3 separate regions of the Homo sapiens genome follow, and regions 1 and 3 are each reported to be linked to region 2. The links are microRNA targets in miRTarBase. Many come from high-throughput screens and were not tested one by one. Region 2 holds a microRNA gene; each other region holds the end of a gene's coding sequence.
What was found. The annotated mature microRNA hsa-miR-4703-5p reads UAGCAAUACAGUACAAAUAUAGU and lies in region 2 at 4,043-4,065, shown strand. An mRNA with a match to its seed (bases 2 to 7 or 8) in the 3' UTR can be bound and repressed. Matches are read on the target gene's strand: a 7mer-m8 pairs with bases 2 to 8, a 7mer-A1 pairs with bases 2 to 7 and ends in A, and an 8mer does both.

Region 1: the mRNA of SESN1 is a reported target of hsa-miR-4703-5p. Seed matches in the 3' UTR shown: 7mer-A1 at 1,189-1,195.
Region 3: the mRNA of FAM98A is a reported target of hsa-miR-4703-5p. Seed matches in the 3' UTR shown: 7mer-m8 at 1,750-1,756.

Annotation. Positions count from the first base shown.
Region 1 is chr6:108,981,057-108,988,261 of GRCh38, reverse strand. SESN1 (sestrin 1) reads left to right here. Exons shown (of 10, transcript NM_014454.3): 10 at 632-3,953. The coding sequence ends at 718. It also overlaps a transcript of ARMC2 not described here. Among named protein-coding and RNA genes, the nearest start is that of ARMC2-AS1, 61 kb to the right of the region's middle. RefSeq lists a silencer at 5,849-6,049.
Region 2 is chr13:51,548,557-51,555,761 of GRCh38, forward strand. It overlaps MIR4703 (microRNA 4703), which reads left to right and starts at 4,033; the gene lies at 4,033-4,111. LOC124903175 (a long non-coding RNA gene) reads left to right here and starts at 568. Exons shown (of 4, transcript XR_007063804.1): 1 at 568-674; 2 at 1,154-1,350; 3 at 2,569-2,632; 4 at 3,527-3,595.
Region 3 is chr2:33,578,387-33,585,591 of GRCh38, reverse strand. It overlaps FAM98A (family with sequence similarity 98 member A), which reads left to right. Exons shown (of 8, transcript NM_015475.5): 7 at 1-62; 8 at 148-1,932. The coding sequence ends at 816. Among named protein-coding and RNA genes, the nearest start is that of RASGRP3-AS1, 13 kb to the right of the region's middle. RefSeq lists an enhancer at 1,324-2,143.

The sequences.
Region 1 (7,205 bases), not on the chromosome of region 2:
AAGTGTCTGTTCTCTTTGAAACATCTTTATAGAAATTACTGAATAATGATTTGGCAGGGGAAGTTGCTATTCTGATAAAACAGTGTCTAGATTTTCTGACATGTAACAAACCTCCAAGAAACATGATAAAATATAAATGAAAGCTCAATCTATCCAAAAAGAATATTAGGCCAGGTATGGTGGCTCACACCTGTAATCCCAGCACTTGGGGAGGCCAAGGCAGGCTGATCACTTAAGATCAGGAGTTCAAGACCAGACTGTCCAACATGGTGATACTAAAAATACCAAAAAATTAGTTGGACATAGTGGCATGCACCTGTATTCCCAGCTACATGGGAAGCTGAGGCATGAGAATCGCTTGAACCCAGGAGGTGGAGGTTGTAGTGAGCCAAGATCGTGCCACTGCACCCGAGCCTGGGAAAGAGTGAAAGTGTGCATCAAAAAAAAAAAAAAAAGATAGCTGCTGTTTTGAGAAATTTATAATCTGTTCAACAAACCCAAGGCTAAGTTATGCTGTACTACATAGGAAGTGTAGGAAGTGTACTTATTTTATGTGTTCATTAGATTCACTGAAAAACTGATTGTGAATGCTTGTAACCCTTCCTTATATGATGTTGTATTTTATATTCAGGTTCATGTTAATCTGCTTCTTATAGAAGCTAGGATGCAAGCAGAACTCCTTTATGCTCTGAGAGCCATTACCCGCTATATGACCTGATGCCTTTCCTTCATTAAAGATGATTCTGGAATGATCAGCAGATATAGTCTACAAGGGGGAAGGTACTAAGCCCCAGGACCAATGGTAGACAAAATAATTCAGAAATCCATTGTGCCATGATTCCTTTAGTTTCTGCTATTTTTCTGTGGAAAACCACTGCTGGCACAAGCAGTGACTGTTTGGCAGCTTCAAGTTTAGAGCTGTGAAGACAGGCTGCCATTCACAGTATTTTGCTTTTTGACAGTACAAGATGCTGTGTAACTGTTTTAATACAGCAAATAGTAACTCTCCAAATCCTGTTGCTTTTATGTTAAATAAGATAACAAGAATTGGAGCATGCAAAGAATGGGACTTGGATAATGACTTAAGCTTTATATGTAAAGAATTTTAGAAGATCTTGGTGCTGCTATTCCTGCTGGAGGAATGAATAGATGGCTGTTTCAGTTAAGCTATTAGTAATAAAAGTGAACATTGCTACTATCTGAGCCTACATACATAACTTGTGTGATTTCAAATTAAACTTGCATTATGTGTTAATTTTCTTGCATCTAAAAAAGCATAGAATTCCTACTCACACAGCTCAGCAACAACCATTTTGATGGTAACAGTTAATTTCTTTCATTAGTTTTTTAAATTCAGGGTTCTGGATATTAAATTAAAATGGCATTCTTAAAGATTTTCTTCAAAAAGCAATCCTAAATGAAAGTGTGTAAATTATAAGAAGCTGGCGATCTTTTGATATGCTGTTTCACAGGATCCTGACACTGGAGGGCAGCTGTCTTGTGCATTACTTGTGTTTCCAGCACCAAAGTTGTGGGACATGTTGCTGTAGACTGCTGCGCAGTCCTGGGTGCATTCAGTCTCTCTGCCTCTGCCTGCCTCCTGGTCCCCACTTTAAAGGCTGTGCAGCTCCTTAAATAATAAAGCTGGAAAATATTTTTAGTCGGGTTATCAAATTTGATTTACAAAAACGCTAACTTTGTTTGAAATGCAAACAGGTTTGAAAATATGTATTAAGTACTTTGTATTCTGGAAGCGTGAATTGCTTTTGAAGTCTGTCAGTATTACTGGTATTTTTAAATAAAGAAGAATTTTTCTCCAATTTTATTTGCTGTCTCAATCTCTTAAAAAATCATGACTTCACTATTAGTAATAATTTTGAGTTTCTATCTACTTTCATAAGCCAAGTACATTCACACTTAAATGGCAAAACAACACTTGAAGCCATTTTGAAACATACAAAGAGGAGTGGACTTTCTTTAGAATCTTATCTGAGACCATTTTTATCTTGGAAATGACTGGTATGGCCCTATGCCTGCTCTCTTTTCAACTGTTTTAGAGTTCCAATAGAATTTTAAGAATTACTAAAAAGAAGGATTCATTAGGGAGAGACTACAGAACAAAAAATGACACTCATCAGACAAGTAGAAATAGCTCTAAGTTTAACTGAAGCTGTTGTGATGATAACTCTGTTAGTTACTCCTCAAAACATTTATTGAGCTCAATCTAGTGCCTGCCTACAAATGTATGGGGTAGTGTGGAAGTAGGGGTTGGGAAGGATCAATTTTGAACAGAGGTGGTACCTGTCCTCAAGGATATTTACTCTCATGAGAAGACAAGACTATAACCTTAGCTAGGAATAGAGTATTATTATCTTCAATATGTTTTATATTTAAAGAAACTTACTTATAAGTGCATTACTCATTGAATATGCATCATGCCTTTGTCCTCTTCTGCCTGCTGCTGAGTTCTCTCACCAGAGCAATACAATTGAACCCAAGAAGATAGTTAAAATTTTACTTATCCCATTTCTGCTCTTTGTTCCTCCTCTTGAAAATACAAAATTTCTAGTAGAGATTCTAATCAGCAGTAGAGTGATCACAAAACAAGATCAACTAGAATGCATTTAGTCCACTGGAACTTATAATCACTTAGAAATTGAAATCAAAATTTTAATGAGTTAAAAAATATGTTTATACCTAAAGTAATAAAAGTGCATGTGATACAAAGTTAATGTTTCAATGCCTTCCATTTAGCAGGTGCTTCCTGTTGGAGTGTTTTCTCAAAACTAAACACACAGGATTTCTAATGTTACTATATAATCTTTGAAACCAGTAGTTTCCAAAATAATTAGGGAAGGTACATTACACTGGGGATATCAAAACCTTCCCCAACCAGAGGAAAATTTTCTTCTAAAATAATCATGAGAAGATTTCTGGTTGAGGGTCCCAGGATTCAAGAGTTAAAATCTTGAGTTGTTTTGGCCGTATTTGGGAAAATTTTTTATTAGGCCAAACTTTATCATCTCTAAGAATGAGATTGATTTTGATACAGACCACCAGGAGATAAGTAGATAAGTAAAACTTGTTGGATAAGCACTTTTTATCAATATACTCTGAAATTTTATTAGCATATTCATATATGTGAATATCATACATGAATCAGAAATGTTACTAGCATATTTGTATATGTGAATATCATATATGAATCATCATACTAGTTTTTTGCTAACACTGGTAGATGGGAGTAATGTCAGCAAGATGATGGACTTGGGAACTCCACGTCCTCATTCTCCCAGAGACGCTGAGTTAACAATATATGGGCCAGAATATCTTTGTGAGAACTCTAGAAACCAATTGGGAAACTGCAGCATTTAGGCAAATGCAAAGCCAGGAAAAGGCCGCACCAAAAGGCTAGGAAAGTTTGTGGATTTTGCTCACCCTAGCTCTTCCCCAGCAGAGGATGGTGTGATCAAGAGGAAGCATAAATTCAGCAAAGTTGTAGGATACAAAGTCAGCACACAAAAATCAGTTGTATTTCTATACACTAACAATGAATGATCCAAAAAAATTTAACAATTCCATTTACAATAGGATCAAAAAGAATAAAATACTTAGGAATAAACCTAACCAAGGGGATATGTGATGGCTGAATGTTTGTGTCTTCCCCTACATTTGTATGTTGATGTATGTTGTATGCTGAAATGTAATCCTCAATGTGGTGATATTAAAAAAGTAGGCCTTTGGGAGGTGATAAGATCAAGAGGGCTCTGCTCTCATGAATGGGATTAGTGCCCTTTAATAGAGGTCTGGGGAGCTCCCCTTCTACCATGAAAGGACACAGCTAGAGTGTGCCATCTGTGAGGAAGAAAACACTCACTAGGCACTAAATCCTTGATATCGGACTTCCCAGCCTCCAAAACTGTGAGCAATAAATTTCTGTTATCTATAAATTACCCAGTCTAAGGTATTTTGTTACAGTAGCCTGAACAGACTAAGACAAAAGACTTACACATTGAAAACTAAAGCAGCAGTCCCCAACCTTTTTGGCACCAGGGACTGGTTTCATGGAAGACAGTTTTTCCATGGACCCAGGGTGGACGGTGCAGTGGGGGATGGTTTCAGGATAAAACTGTTCCACCTCAGATCATCAGGTATTAGATTCTTACAAGGAGTGCACAACCCACATCCCTCACATGCACAGTTCACAATAGGGTCAAGCTCCTATGAAAATCCAGTGCTGCAGCTGATCAGACAGGAGGCAGAGCTCAGGCAGTAATGCTTGCTTGCCCACAACTCACCTCCTGCTGTGCAGCCAGTTCCTAACAGGCCACAGACTAGGACTGGTCCATGGCCCATGGGTTGGGGACCCCTGCTGTAAAGCATTACTAAGAAATTAAAGACACAAATAAATGGAAAGACATCTCATGGTCACCCAGAGTGACCTGTAGATTCAATGCAATCTCTATCAAAATCCCAATGGCATTTTTCACGGAAGTAGAGAATTCCATGCCAAAATTCATCTAGAATCTTCAATGGACCCTGAATAGCCAAAACAATCTTGAAAAAGAACAAAGTTGGAGGTCTCACACTCCCTGATTTCAAAACATATTGCAAAGCAACAGTAATCAAAATAATGTGGAACTGGCACAAAGTCAAACATACAGGCCAATGGAATAGGGTCCAGAAATAAATTCTCACATATATGGCCAAATCATCTTTAGCAAAGGTACCAAGACCACTCAATAAGGACAGGACAGTCTCTTTAACAAATGGTGCTAGGAAAACTAGATATGCACATGCAAAAGAATGAAGTTGGACCCTTATATATTAAAAAACTCAAAGACCTAAATGTAAGACTGACAACTGTAAAACTAGATGAAAACACGGGGAAAGTTTCACAACATTGGATTTGGCAATGATTTCTTAGATATGACACAGAAATTATGGGCAACAAAAGAAAAAAAGACCATTGGAATTACATCAGACTTAAAAATGTCTGTGCATCAAAGGACATAATCAACAGAGTGAAAAGGCAACCTATGGGATAGGAGAAAATATTTACAAATCATATATTTGATAAGAGGTTAATATCCAGAATATATGAAGAATTCCTACAACTCAAAAAACCAAATAACTAAAAAATGGGGCTGGGAGTGGTGGCTCATGCCTGTAATCCCAGCAGTTTGGGAGGCCGAGGCAGGCAGATCATGAGGTCAGGAGATCGAGACCATCCTGGCCAACATAGGAAAACCCCCGTCTCTACACAAAAATTAGCTGGGCATGGTGGTGTGCACCGGTAACCCACTGGGATTACTCTGGAGGCTGAGGCAGGAGAATGGCTTGAACCTGGGAAGCGGAGATTGCAGTGAGCTGAGATCGCGCCACCGTACTCCATGCACTCCAGCATGGTGACAGAGCGAGACTTCATCTCCAAAAAAAAAAAAAAAAAGAAAAGTCCAAAGACTTGAATAGACATTTCTCCAAAGATGATAATACAAATGACCAACAAACAAAAATTATGAAAAGGTGCTCAGCCTGACTAATTATAAAAAATGTAAATCAATATTACAAAGACACATTACCTCACACTCATCAGGGTGGCTACTATTTTTAAAACTCCCAAAATAACAAGTGTTGGTGAGGATGTGGGGAAATTGGAACACTTATGTGGCATTGGTAACAATGTAAAATGATAATCACCACTTAAACACGATGGAGGTTCCTCAAAAAGTTAAAAATAGAATTCCCATATGATACAGCAATTCCACTTGCTGTGGACTGAATATTTGCATTCCCCCAAAATTCACATGTTGAAGCCCTGTGGTCTTTGGGAAGTAATTAGGTCTTGAGGGTGGAGCCCTCATGAGTGGCAGTAAACCCTTATAAGGAGAGACAGGTGAGAGATGATCTCTCTCTCCACCATGTGAGGATAGAGCAAAAAGGCAGCCCTCTGCAAACCAGGAAGAGGGCCTTGACCACAAACTGAACTGGCCAGCACCTTGACTTTGGACTTCCTAGTCTTAAGAACTGTGAGGAATGAACTTTTGTTAAGTCACCCAAACTATATTTTTTGTTATCTCAGCTTGAACTAAGACATCACTTCTGAGTATATACACAAAAGAACTGAAAACAAGATCTCAAAGAGAGATTTGCAAACCTATATTCATGGCAACATTATTCACAATACCCATGATATGGAGGCAACCCAAATGTTCATTGACAGATGAATGGATAAACAAAATGTGGTATACTCATAGAATGGAATATTATTCAGTCTTAAAAAGGAAAGAAATCAGCAGGGCACAGGTGGCTCACACCTGTAATCCCAGCACTTTGGGAGGCTGAGGCAGGTGGATCACTTGAGGCCTGGAGTTCAAGACCAGCCTGGCCAACATGGTGAAACCCCATCTCTACTAAAAATACAAAAATTAGCCAGGCATGGTGGTGCATGCCTGTAATCCCAGCTACTTGGAAGGCTGAGCAGGAGAATCACTTGAACCCGGGAAGCGGAGGTTGCAGTGAGCCGAGATCATGCCATTGCACTCCAGCTTGGGTAACAGAGACTGTTCTAAGACTCTGTCTCAGGGAAGAAAAAAAAAAAAAGTAAGGAAATCCTATCACAGGCAACAACATGGATGAACCTTGATAGTATTATGCTAAGTGAAATAAACCAGTCACACACACACAACTATTGTATGGCTCCACTTATATAAGATATCAAGTAGTCAAATTCATAGAAATGGAAAGTATTAATAGAATGATGGTTGCCAAGAGCTGGTGGGGGTGAAAATGGGGAGTTGTTTGGTGCGTATAGCGTCAGTTTACAAGATGAAAGAGTTCTAGAGATCTGTTGCAGAACAATGTGAATATACTTAAACTACTGAACTGTACACTTAAAATGGTTAAAATGGTAGATTTTACGTGTTTTTTTAATCACAGGTTTTGTTTAAGTAGATGGTTCCAAATGGTCCAGCTTATATGTGGGTCTGAGGGGAGCAGCTAAGTATGGAAGAGAATAGGTATAATGGGATCCCACCATGAGTTACTATATATTAGTCATAAATATGAAGGGGGCTGTTTGGCGAGGGGAGAGTTTGACTTTTTTTTCCACTAAAAGTAGAATAAATAGCTTGCTATGGATGAAATACATTATATCTGTGAATGTTTTAGATAAATTAGCCCCTGTGACTTAAACTGATTTCATC
Region 2 (7,205 bases):
ATTAGTAGAAACGATCTATGATCTAGGAATTGTTATGTGTATAATAAATCAATTCAAAAACAAAGGCCTATATTTTAGATGCAGCCGCAGAATCCATACTGAGGAATTCTTAAGGAGCTCTGCTGAAGTGGCAAACTCATTTTATTTACTCTTCATTTTTTCCAACTATACCCTGCTTGAAGCTGGGCTCCCTGTTGTTATACATCTTTAAGAAACAAAAATAAATTCTAGCATAATGGGATCAAAACTTGGTAGTCTCTTATGGTAATGAATTCAGAGATCAGTTATAATGAGCAAAGAGACTACTTCCTGCGACAGCCAAAATCATATGGTACCAAACAGACCTAAGATATTTCTCTTCCACGAATGTATGTGTGATATATGCGAAGTGCATACAGCAAGCCCTGGGAGTGTCTGATCATGTATTCTATATTTTGAGCATTATCCACCATGTTTGCTTTTTTTACACTGTGGCTTAACCTACACAAAATGTAGAGAAATCTGTATCATTTGATTATTGATTACTTGAATATGCTGTTAATGAGGTCTTCTTGTGTCTTAGGTTGGGTTTCCCAAGAAGTAGATTCTGAGACAGAGAGTTGTGTGCAGGCGTCTATTGAGAAAACACTTGTGAGGGCATGAGGAAGTAGGACAGCGGCAGAGTTTGGCCTGAGGTGACCTCTTGGGGAGGGGCGCTCAGGAGGTGGGATGACTCATTCAGGTTGTCTGGAACTGAGTCAAGAGGACTGGATCTTTGCATCTCCCACCCCTGTTGTAGCCACCCCCTCACCCCTGTGGATAGGAGACCTTGGGAGAGGCCACTTCCTTCATTGAAGGCAAGTCTTTGGGAGGCCTCAGCTGTAACCTGTCAGCAGCCAACACTCCCTGCACCAGAGAGTATGAGGGTCTCCAGCCTGAAGGGGGTTCTGGGCTGGGTGCTATGCAATGGACCAAATATTTGTGTTCTTCCAAAACGTATATGTTGAAACCCTAATCCTCAATTGATGGTATTTGGAAATGAGGCTTTGAAAGGTAATTAGGTTTAAATGAAGTTATGAAGGTGAAGCCCCTGTGATGAGATTAATGCCCTTATAAAAGGAGGAGACAAAAGCACTCTCTCTCTCTTTCTCTCTCTCTGCACTCGTGCACCAAGGAAAGGCCTTGTGAGGACATAACCAGGAAGAGAGTCCTCACCAGAACCTGACCATACCTGCACCCTGATCTCAAGCTTCCAGCTTCCAGAACCATGAGAAATCAATGTTTGTTGTTTTAGCCACCCAGTCTACAGAAATTTGTTATAGCCACCCTAGCTGACTACCACATTGGACATCACAGCAAACACTACAACCAGTAAGTCTCTGCTTGTATTAACTGGAACATTTCCAAAGCCTGTCCTACTCAGGATAAATGCACAAAAGAAAAATTAGTAGTTGACGGCAGAATTCTTAAGAGAGCAGTTTTGCATTTTTTACCAAGTAATACTTATTTAACTTCTAGGGCAGTAAAGTAAGAGAAATTGTTACTCTCCACCTCCTGCCATCATGAATTTAGGAAATGTAGAAAGTTATTCTGTTAATAAAGATGTGAACTTGCTGTTGAAGAGAAAATGTTTCTGTTATATCTGTTTCCCTGTGTTTTTGCCACTGCAAGATTCTATCCTGTAATTTATAAAGCACAGAAGTTTATTTTTCACAATTCCAGAGGCTGAGAAGTCCAAAATCAAGGCTCTGGTGGGTTTGGTGTCTGGTAATGCAGAAGTTGCTGCATCTTCTGAAGGGAAGGACAAGAGGGCCAAAGGCTAAGTGAAGCCTCTTTTATGAGTTCCTTAATTCCATTCTTGAGGGAGGAGACTATAGACTAATCATCTTTTAAAGGCACCAACTCTTAATGCCATCACGAGCCATTATGTTTCAACACCCAAATTTTGGAGGGGACACACTCAAACTATAGCAGTCCTTTTGCATTTTGTTCAGGATATCAAAAAGGCCACTTACATTTTATAGTAAATAGTGAAAAAGCTTGCATTCAAGCTTTATCTTGAAAAATGCAATACAAACTGTGAAATCATATTTATTATACTTCATATGTAACAAAATGTAAGCTATAATGACATCTACATACTTCCTGTTAGAACTAAGAATAAATGGATTGGAATTTGGGGATGTAATTTTTCCAATGAAATTTTAAAATAGCCCAAATGACATTCTCCACTTTATATTTTATTTGTACAGCATGATAGTGAAGATGGACATTTTGACAAAAACGTTCAAGGATTTTATGAACTTTTCCCAGGGCCTCTCAATCCTTTAATTTTGAACTCATTATTTTTGGAAACATCTCTGCTGTCATTATCCTCCTTGATGTTTCTCTAGTTGTAGATATGTTCACTTCGACACCTAACAGGCATGCCAGTATTAAAAATGTGTCCAAAACAGAACCCTCGATTCTGTTTTCCTTGCATTTTCTTCCCACCTTCACTCTATCTTCTCTTCTCCTCCAGTTGCTCAAGACAAATATCTAGGAATTATTCTTTATTTCTTTTTTTCTCTCATACACTATATCCACCAGCAAGTCCAGTTGGCTCCACAAGCTTGAGCTCACCATTTCTCACCAGCTCCACCGCTACCTCCAAGTAAGTGCCAACCACCTTCAGCCATTGCCTGAACTACTTTAGTGGCTTCCTAAATCGGCTCCAGCTTCTACTCTATTTCCCTACAATCCACTCTCCATAGAGCTGCCAGAGTGATTTTTAAATGGATTTGTTTGTATTAAGTACTACATTGACAAGGTTCAAAATTTAACACACTATAAAAAGAGATGTTCAGAGAAGTCTTGCGTTCACTCCTGCACTTCTCACCCCAACCCTCCGATGATATCCCTTCCACCCATATATTTTTAAAATCCTCCTAGGGTTTTTAAGGCAAATACAAGCATATTCAAATATATTTTCTCCCACCTTACTGCACAAAAGATAGCCTACCATATACACTGTTCTACATCTTGCTTTCTTTCCCTTGCCATATGTCCTAAAGCTCTTTCCATATGTATCACTACATAGAGAGCTTCCTTATTTGTTTTGACAGCTGCATGTCATACCATTGTTTATTTAACCAGGCCCCTTTTGTTGAATATGGGAGTCAGATCCATTTTTTGCTCTTACAAATAATACAACAATAAATAACCTGATACATGTGTTGTTTCTACAAGTGGATATGCCTCTATGACATAGAATCACAGAAATACGATTGCTAGATTATATATTTTAGTGTATTTGCCAATTTCAAAATGAAAATTTTAGAGGTGAATCTGATGACAGTTCTCCTGCTTAAAAGACAATCAGGATGAAAACCATTAATGAAACCCATAAGGCCCTCCCTAATTTGGCCCTTGTCTAACTCTTCAATACTGAAACTATGCCCAAAAGAGTTAAAGAAACCAATGACTAACAAATTCTTGAGTTTGCAGAATGACAGATTAAAAAAAAAAAAACACCTACTGAAAGGCTGAAATGCCCTCTGCTTATCAGATAAAAGAAATGGCTGAAATCCTTTGGAACCAATATGACCAACTGGAGTCGGTGCAGAAGGAGCTTGCTGACAACGCAGCCTGAATTTCCACCCTATGTTTCATACCAACTCCCCCTGAATTTGCACATGTGATACATGAGATAGCATGAAGAGATAACTGAGCATGCCCAAGGACTTTCCAGACTTCTGCTTTCCTTCCACCAATCACCTGCTAATCTCAGAATCCACCCCCTGAAACTTTTCTAATAAAAATACTGTTTTGAAGGCAGCACAGGGAGACAGATTTGAGCTTGACTTCTGTCTCCTTGGGATTGACTTTCAGTACAAAGCTTTTCTTTTCTCAAGAACATGGTGTCATAGTATGGGCTTCTAGTGCATTGGACAGTGAGCCCCTTTTACTCGATAACAATATCAGCTATATTTTTCTCCCTCTTTCACTGTGGACTAAGCATTCAGCTTCCTCTTATTAATCCCATAAAATCCTATACCATTTGCGAGATTTGCTTTATGCATATTAGCAATACAGTACAAATATAGTGTGTTTGATTTGCACTGTAGTTGTATTGTATTGCCACTCTGTATAAAAATCCAATCATCAGCTAGATACCTACCTAACAAAAAAGTTGCTCCTAGAAGGAAGGAAGCAAAGCTAATGTTTAGTGGATATGACTGAGTGGCTTTTATAAGCAGTCATTTGATAAATAAACGTTTCTAGGTTATGATGACTTTTAGTCTCCTATACTGCTTCAGACTTCAGGGACTCAGATAATGAATGCTGAGATAATGTGGATGTTTTATCATTCTGTAGCATGGTGATCAGGGATTCCAGAAACATAAAGGTAAAGTTCTAACCTTATAAAGAAACGACATGGTCAGTGAAAGAGCACTGGGCTGGAAATTACAAGTCCCAGGTCCCAATGCAGAATCTGCCACTAAGTAAGCTGTGAGGGCTTAGGCAAGCCATTTCACTTTTCTCTGGCTCATTTTATTTGCATGAAAAGAAAGAAAAAGGAATTCATTGTGATTCTGAACCTTTTCACTCCCCAAGGATCCCCTTTATTCCTCCCCCCATTTTCATATGTTGAGAAATTGTGTCTACTAAAATATATTCATTAGTAGTTTGTTCATGTTCTCATGTTCATTGTTTATTATTAATATAGTCATGTTCATTGTTAATTTATCAAAAATATATATATATAATTTCCAATTCAGCTTAGCATTACAAAATTGATTGACATTGATTGAGTTGATGTAATACCCTCCAAAGCAAAGAAACCAGATTAATTTGTCTGGGTGGTTAATCTTAATTCCTAAGAGTTAAGAGGCTGCAGGTTGGGACTGTCTGCATCCAGTTGACTATAAGTTTTTTGTTTTGTTTTGTTTTTACAAGTCTGAGAGTCAATGCTATTTATATTTGTATTTCTATTCAGTCCAGTGCTTGGACAAATGGTACCTCAGAGGGTCCTGTGGGTTCAGCAAAGCAGCTCAGGAGCAGAAATGGGGGTGGGAAAAGAGGAGTCTTAGGGCCCCAAAACCTATTTCATCTACAGCAGCCTCACTTTTTTCTGCTTTAAATGCTAGATTCTGCTTAAGATTTTCTTTTTCTTTTCCTTTTTTTTTGAGACAGAGTCTTGCTCAATTGCCTAGGCTGGAGTGCAGTGATGCTATCTTGGCTCACTACAACTTCCCCTTCTTGGGTTCAAGTGATTCTCCTGCCTCAGTCTCCCGATTAGCTGGGATTACAGATGTGTGCCACCACCCCCAGCTGATTTTTGTATTTTTAATAGAGACAGGTTTTCACAATGTTAGCCAGGCTGATCTCGAACTCCTGGCCTCAAGTGATGTGCCTGCCTCAGCCTCCCAGAGTGCTGGGATTACAGGCGTGAGCCACCACACCTGGCCTTAAGATTTGCTTTGAAGAAAGCGTTTAAACCATAAAAATAATTTGAAAAATATGACTTAATCAAACTCAATTATATAGATGAGAATAATGAGGCATAGAAAAATTAAATGAAACTGGCCCAAGGTTATAGAGCTAATTAATGGCAAAATACTCATTCAGTCAATCAACAAATATTTATTGAACACTGTAGAAATAAAAATTGTAAAGCTAAAGCTTTGATTTGTTCTTAGTTTAAAAACAATCTGTGAGTCACTGTATTGGATTAGAAGCATTAGGATGAAAGAATCTTGTTTTCATAAATTGGTGGAGAACTGACATTATCGTGTATGTTACTATTGTTCAATAAGACAAGGAAGAGAGGGCAGGGGCATATTAGCATTCAGGTGACCACAGGAGGTTGGGGACAGGTCAGGTTTGGTAAAGGGCTTGTTTCAATTTAAATCTATGGTGGCTCAGGCTCTGATTGTCATACTAGTGCTCTCATTAATGTGCACAGGGAAGGAGCCAAGAACCCCACTTGACCCAAGATTAACATTAAGGTTTTGTTTCATTTCCCAGATTAAATATGTGATTAGCACCAAACCTGGAAAAACCCGTGGCTATAGGATATGTGTAATTTAATCTATAAAATGTATTTGTAAAAGCCAATTCATTGTACATGTTCAACTTAATAAGTTCACTGGCATTATGATAACTTATCCATGACTGGGTATTGCATATGCTCTCCAGTTAGTCCAAAAGTTATAGCCCTTCTGATTCTAACTTTCTCTTTACAAACTATTTGCAATAAAGCTCATCTTTAGCAGATTCAAATCCAAATATAACACAAAGCTTTGTTCTTGGCCAGCACCAGTCAAGAGCCAGCCCTTCTAGGCATGGAGGATACAGCAATGAACATGTTGGGAGAGTTTGCTGTTTCTATGAACTAGCCTTGGGTCTCTTGCTTTCTGGTCCAATTCTGTTTCCAACACAGCATGCAAGGTTGAAGACGCATTCTACTCTTCTGCAAATACTTGTCGTTACAGCTTATGCTTATATCTTCACATTATTTATTCATTTATTCAACAAATATTTGTTGAATAGCTTCTATTACCAGACTATACTAAGTGCTGGGCATCTTGATATGAATTAGCTCTCAAGGTGCTCACAGACTTATGAGAATATAGACTCGTACACAAATTTTAAACCAGCATAGTGAGTACAACAGTGGGAGGAGAACAAGGTTCAGTCATAATACACAGCAGCAACTGATTAACTCCCTCTGGCATGATATCCACACTTGAATTTGAAGGATTACTAGAGGTTTCCTGGGCAAACCAATGATAGTGGGAGTGGGAATGGCATATGGAAAGCTACACAGGCAAGAGAGAACATGGCTCATTCTGAGAACCACACCCTGGTTTGAAGGAATATACAGTACAAGGTGGCAGGCAATTGATGGGAGGCAGGCAATTGATGGAATTTCAATCTAATGGCCTCTGTTTTCTCTGTGAGATGAGAGTGACAGGATGTTTTGAAATGTAGGCAAAAGCTGGGTAGGAAACTTGGAGGGAGGTTTAAAAGGACTGCTGAATTGTTTGTAAAACAGAAAGGATTGGGAAAAACCTAAAGGCCTATCAAAAGGGAACTGGCTTAACAGATTACAGTCCACCCATGCAATGGAATACCACACAGCCAGGAAAAAAGATATGTATTGATATATATTGATATGGGAAGATCTGTAAGACATAAATTTTTTAGTGAAAAAAGAAAGTGCAGAACTATGTGTTCCTTTA
Region 3 (7,205 bases), not on the chromosome of region 2:
CAAAGATTTTAAGGACAAGCAGCGGCTCTATAAGAGAAAAGACTGCCTGTGCCATCAATAAGGTGATTAGAGTACCTTTAATTTTTTCCAAATGCATTTATTTCTGTTCATAAAATAAAAGTTTAAAATATCTTTCCTATTCTGTAGGTGTTGATGGGCAGGGTGCCTGACAGAGGTGGTAGACCCAATGAAATCGAACCTCCACCCCCAGAGATGCCACCGTGGCAGAAGAGGCAAGATGGCCCCCAGCAGCAAACAGGAGGCCGAGGAGGAGGGAGAGGTGGCTATGAACATTCCTCATACGGAGGACGAGGAGGTCATGAACAAGGAGGCGGGAGAGGTGGACGTGGTGGCTATGACCATGGTGGCCGAGGGGGAGGAAGAGGAAATAAGCATCAAGGAGGCTGGACAGATGGAGGGAGTGGTGGAGGAGGTGGCTACCAAGATGGTGGTTATCGAGATTCAGGTTTCCAGCCAGGTGGCTATCATGGTGGCCACAGCAGTGGTGGCTATCAAGGCGGAGGTTATGGTGGCTTCCAAACATCTTCTTCATATACAGGAAGTGGATACCAGGGTGGTGGCTACCAGCAGGACAATAGATACCAAGATGGCGGGCACCATGGTGATCGTGGTGGTGGTCGTGGTGGGCGAGGTGGTCGTGGAGGCCGAGGTGGTCGTGCAGGCCAGGGAGGAGGCTGGGGAGGAAGAGGGAGCCAGAATTATCACCAAGGGGGTCAATTTGAACAGCATTTCCAGCATGGAGGTTATCAGTATAATCATTCTGGATTTGGACAGGGAAGACATTACACTAGTTGAGGCTACCGAACCTTACATTTTGCTAGAGCTCAAGTAATAGAAACTTAGTTTCAGAATCCTGAATTCAGCACCTATTTTGAATTAATGTGAGACCACAGGTGGCAGGCAGATTCCTGCTTGGCATAAGCATTTGTAGGTCTTCATTCAATTCTGTTAGATTTTTTTATTGGACTTACATAATGCCGTTTATTTGAGAAACACATAACATCTCTCCTTTCTATGAAAAATTTTTTAAAAGGTGGTTAAAATTGCCTTTAATTGCCCAGTAGACTAATTCCACAGTCAGAACATGCAAACTTTTTTGAAGAAATTACTTGAATAAGTAGTTTTCATGTTTTCAATATGCAGTTTTGAAAATGAGGATTCACCTAGACTTTTTTAGATTTACTACTAGGAAACCTTCCTCATATGAATAACCATTTATATGTGTTTTGCTTAAAGTATTCCAATGCCTATTTTCCAAGCACAGTTCTGCCCCCCGGTTGACTTTTATGCCACGTGTGCTTCATGATGGAACTTTTAGGTCAGTTCCTATTAAATGAGCTCTTTTGCAGATAGCACATTCAGTAGCCTTATTTTGTTGATGGAATACTGTATCATATGCTCAACTCTGAAAACCTTGAACACGGCCAAAATCCATAAAGATTATAAAAGCAAACTAAGTTGTGAAGCTATAGTACATGTAGGCATTTAGTTAAGTATAGCAATTCAAACTGACCTGCATCCATCCAAAACAAATTCCTCCTTCAACCTTATTTTTACTTGAAATTTGCTAGAAGAAATAGCAAACCGAAATTTGTTTTATGCATGAGTTAATACCACTGGCTCAGCAAATACAAGTTAGTTTGCTTTAAGCAGGTAACTTTTTTTGTAATGGAAGAAATGCACTACAAAGTTAAGACAGATTTTTGCTAAGTGCAGGAGGCCCTTTATTATTGCTGCAGAAAACAAAAGCCTGGCTGAGTTGATGTTTTACATTCTCCCTTACTGAAATCTACATGACATGATGCTTCTTGCTGGGTTTTTGTACATGTAAACATTGTCAAGCTGTGAAAGAAAATGGCTGGAGGTGTGCTTTGTGTGAAAGGTGAGCAATAAAGTATCTGTTAAGTTCTCTCTTTGGTTTGAGTTTTATTTTAGCTACTGAATTATTCTGGACTCTTGCGTCAAGCTGATGAGCTAAGGCTTTTGTTCCCAAAGATTCTTGAGTATTTCCTTAAAACCTAATTTTAGTGAAAGGTGACTTTTATCCTAAAACCTTAAATAAATGGAAAAATGGCTCTTTCCAGGTTTTCCTTTTATAATAATATAGCTAGAAACCGTCACCACTCATCTCTGGCCACTGGGTGTAGCTGTTGCTACACATACTAGGCAAAAATGTTTTTAGGGTTTTTTTGTTATTTGCTTCTCCATTCTTCCTAAGATTGGGGGACTTTTTTTAAAAAAGGAAGTAACTGAAAATATAAATATGTTTATCAAAAGAGAAATTGTATTTCCTTTCTACTAAATTGGGCTTTTTTAAAGAATCAACTCATGTCATGCCATTTAAAATAATCTACTTGCTACTGAGATAAGCACATTCTTCTAATACTAAAACCATCTTTGAAAACCCACATTGATCCTTTTAACTTTACCTGTTTATTTTTCAGCTAACATTTACAATTATTTTAAAATGTTCAAATTTGAAGACAATTTCAAGTGTTTTATCATTAAAGTAAGTTAAGGTTTTAAGTTGTCTTGAATGTTGTGTTGGTTTCTTTAAACTGTTAAGTAATTATGTTTATATAGGATTTCCTATTAAAATTGTCAAGGTTTCATATTTTAAATGTATCATATCTTAGGATGTATTTATATTTAGTATTTGCTTTGATCTGTTTTGTAGCCTCAGACTCCACAATATAGCTAATGAATACAGGTTTCATTCTTTTGAAAAATATTTTGATTTATCTTTACGGTTAATAGATTGCTTTTTCGAATATAAGGATGTAAGAACACAAATGATACATTTCGCCCTGATAGTTCTGAAATCTGCAGCTCCTGCTTCAAACTAGATTTTCCCCCAACATTATTATTTTTTAAAAAACTTCTATGTTCAGGGGTACATGTGAAGGTTTGTTATACAGGTAAACTTGTGTCACAGCGGTTTGTTGTACAGACTATTTCATCATCCAGGTATTAAGCCCAACACCCGAAGGTTATCTTTTCTGTTCCTCTAGTTCCTCCCACCCTCCACCCTCAAGTAGACCCCTATCTGTTGTTTCCCTCTTTTGTGTTCATGCGTCTTCATCATTTAGCTCCCACTTATAAGTGAGAATATGTGGTATTTGGTTTTCTGTTCCTGTGTCAGTTTGCTAAGGATAATGGCCTCCAGTTCCAGCCTTGTTCCTGCAAAAGACAGGATCTCATTCTTTTTTATGGCTATATGGTATTTTATGGTGTGTACATGTACCACATTTTCTTTATCCAGTTGGTCATTGATGGGCATTTAGGTTGATTCCGTGTCTTTCCTATTGTGAATAGTGCTGCAGTGAATATATGCGTGCATGTGTCTTTATGGTAGAGTGATTTATATTCCTCTGGATGTATACCCAGTAATGGGATTGCTGGGCCGAATGGTAGTTCTGCTTTTAGCTCTTTGAAGAATCGCCATACTGATTTCCACAATGGTTGAACTAATTTGCACTCCCACCAACAGTGTATAAGTGTTCCCTTTTCTCTGGAACCTTACCAGCGTTTGCTGTTCCTCCCCCGCCTCTCCCCATTCTGAAACCATAAAAGAATTGAGTTTTTTCTCTTGAACATAGATCAAGTTCTCTAGAAACAGGATATTTCAAACCACCAGTTAGTTTTATTGTTATATTAAAGTTCTTAGGTTTTGTATAGAGAGTATCTTTTGATCTTATATGCATTCTTAACCTTAACTTGTAAATAATGATTTACTGGAATATAGGGCATATGAGAATTTCTTGGAGAAACAAGCGAAAAATATTAGGAGAGAATTTTTAACATGATATCTTAAACTGTTATCTCTTAAAACGGATACAGTGAGACAGACAGTACCTTTAGTTAATGTTCTGTTTCCTCCTACTACTAGGAACTAGAATAGGATGTCAGTATTCTCTATGAAAACTATTAAAGATATACCACTATCATTTTTATTTCTTGCTGTAGATCCAAACTAATCTAGTGTCCAACTGTGGTAGACATAGAATAGGCAAATTCTTGCTGAGGGAAGGCATTTGAATCATTTCTATATATACTTAATTGATTTCCCAGTGCCCAGATTACCTCCATCCTTAGACTTAAATATTTTTAGGTTGTGCCCATTGTATCTTTCTGGATACTTTGTCTACCTATATTACATCCTTTTGAAAATAGTTTTTAAATATGTTTATATTATTTAATCATACCCCCGCCTCCCACTTTAGGTAATTTGGATAGCATTTGATCCATTTGTTTTTTAACAGAGAGGGTTACCTAAATAAAATTTAGGTATTTATTTGTATTTTACCTAAATAAAAAAATGAGTTTACCTGAATGAAAAAGTACATTCATCACAGAATACTTAGCATTTTATGACTTCTTATTTTCCTGTTTTTCTTGTTTTTCTCATTCTTCATTATCATAGTAATAACTAGAAATGCTTTTTTTTTCCCTGTGGTTTCCATATTTGTATACACTAATGTATTCCTAGGGTTCAAATCACTGATTCAAACAGGTATGCATGTCAGTGTTTGAACTCACTTTCCGCTTGCACAATTTTAGTCACCTGCAGATGTGCGGTTATAAGTTGGAGTAAACATAACTGTTGGTATGAGAACTTCCACAGTAAATCATTCCCTGCCCACTAAATGTAATAAAGAGGCCGGGGGCAGAAATAGATAGGGAAGAAAAAAAAAATGTTTCCTAGGAATTTGGGTCGGGGAGAAAAAAACCTCTTAAAATGATTGGTATTTGTTAAATTGAGTTATAATTTTTTCAAGAAGAAAAAAGGCCTGGCCAGGCACGGTGACTCAGCCTGTAGTCCCAGCACTTTGGGAGGCCAAGGTGGGCGGATCATCTGAGGTCGGGAGTTCAAGACCAGCCTGGCCAACATGGTGAAACCCCGTCTCTACTAAAAATGCAAAACTTAGCTGTGTTTGGTGGCGGACGCCTGTAATCCCAGCTACTTGGGAGGCTGGGGCAGGAGAATGGCTTGAACCCGGGAGGCAGAGGTTGCAGTGAGCCGAGATTGCACCTCTGCTCTCCAGCCTGGGCAACAGAGGGAAACTCCATCTCAGGGAAAAAAAAAAAAAAAGAAGAAGAAAGGCCTGTAGTTCAGTTCAGTAAAAATGAGTGTCTGCTATATTCTAGCACTGTGCTGGGCTGAGGTAGAAAGTCCATGGCTTGAGAAATGTCTCAGCATGGACTGAGTGACAGAGCCAGAAACATAGGTAATTGTAGCATAAATAATAATGAAAATTATGTGTGGGTACTAGGAGAGCATGGTGTTTCTGTATTGCTTATATGGGGTGGAAATTGGCAGAAATTGGAAAGATTGCAGGGGTCAGGTAATAGAGGGCTCTCCATGCCGTCCTGAGTAACTTGGAGCTACTTTGTGTACGGTAGTATACCAATAACACGGCATATTCAAGTTTGGCTCTGTGTAAATTATTGGCTCAAGAGTAGGGGATAGACTCAAGGAGGAGGGCAAAGGTTGGAATCAGAAGCGTAGAGCTTAAATTAATGTGGTAGACATAGTAAGGGTATAGAAGGGGCAGATTTGAGAATTATGTCGGAGGCAAATATTATAGGAGTATATTAGAACAAGAAATGTAGTATGAACCTTGGTTTTTGGTTTTTTTGGTTTGTGATTGAGTAGATGATGAACTACCAATTGAAATCGAAATTAGAAGAAGGGGGAAAGGTGGGCTGGGGGAAATGATTTCAGTCTGAAACTCCAGAAAATGCCTGGAGATAGAAGTCTGGGAATGATCAACATCCACTGATTTTTGCATTGAAACATTTCATCAGAAAAATGATTCCAAATTAAACCATCCAAAAAGGGAGGAAAGGGGCAGTGGACCAAGGATGGAATCTTAAGGATTAATCAGTTAAGGGATAGATGGAGCAGGGTCACAGAGTAAGAGGGACACCTAGAGAACAGTGTTGTGGAAGCTTAGGGTTGGTAGTAAGAATGGTAATTTATTACTGTTATTACTGTTTATTGAGAGCAACATGAGTACTACTATTAACCCTCTTTTCACATGTAAAGAGTATGAAGCCAGGATAGTTGAGAAGACTTGCCCATATCCATATAGTTAGTAAGCGGGGGAGCTGGAATAAACCTAGGGCCATCTGGCTCCAGAGCTCAGTAATGCACAATTCCAGATGCTACAGAGAAATTCAACGAACTAGAGTTGAAAAATAGCCGTATGTCTTGCGGCGTTTTTGTGTTGGTGTTGTTTTCTTGTGGCATTTTCAAGAGCAGTTTCAGAATAAAAATGAGACCAGTTTTCTGGAGTTTAAGGAAAGAATGAGAAAATAAACCATAAATTTAGATTATAGTTGACCCTGAACAACAGATCCATTTATATGAGAAAGTTTTTCAACCAAATGCCGCTGGAAAATACAGTATTCACAGGATGTAAAGACCTCCGTATAGGGAGGGGCTGATTTTTCATATATGTGGGTTCCACAGGGCTGACTGTGGACTTGACTATGTGTGCATATTGGTATGTGCATTAGTTCAGGGGTCCTGGAACTAATCTCCTGTATACCAAGGGACCACTGTAGTTCTAGAAGCTTCACTGAGAAAGGACTGAGTAAAATAACAGTGTAACATTTAGTGGAATGAAGTGATGTACTCTGAAAGGTTACAAAAAGCCAGGGAAGTCTTAAAGAAAATATAATTGAAAGTCTTTAAGAACCCAAAAGTATCAATAATAGAATTATTTAGGGGTTCAAATATCTAGTACTCTCTCTTTATTTATTGGTTTATAAATGAATAAATGCATGAACGACAGGCCTAGACTAGAGTGATCATAGCTCACTGCAGCCTCGACCTCCCAAGCTCAAGTGATCCTCCCACCTCAGCCTTCCGAGTAGCTGGGTCTGCAGGTGGGCACCACCACACCCAGCTAAGTTTTTTCATTTTTCATAAAGCCAGGGCCTCGCCATGTTGCCCAGGCTGGTCTCAAACTCCTGGGCTGTTGCGATCCTCCCACCTTGGCCTCCCGAAGTGCTGGAATTACAGGTGTGAGCCACAGCGCCTGGCTTCTTATGAGGCATTTACAAAATGGTCGAGATAACAGGCTTATTTTGCAAAATGTATGAAAAGTACTATCAAGTCCTCAGAACAGGTAAGTTTATTCCGAGTTATGCAAAATTTCCAGCACTTATCAAGGCCT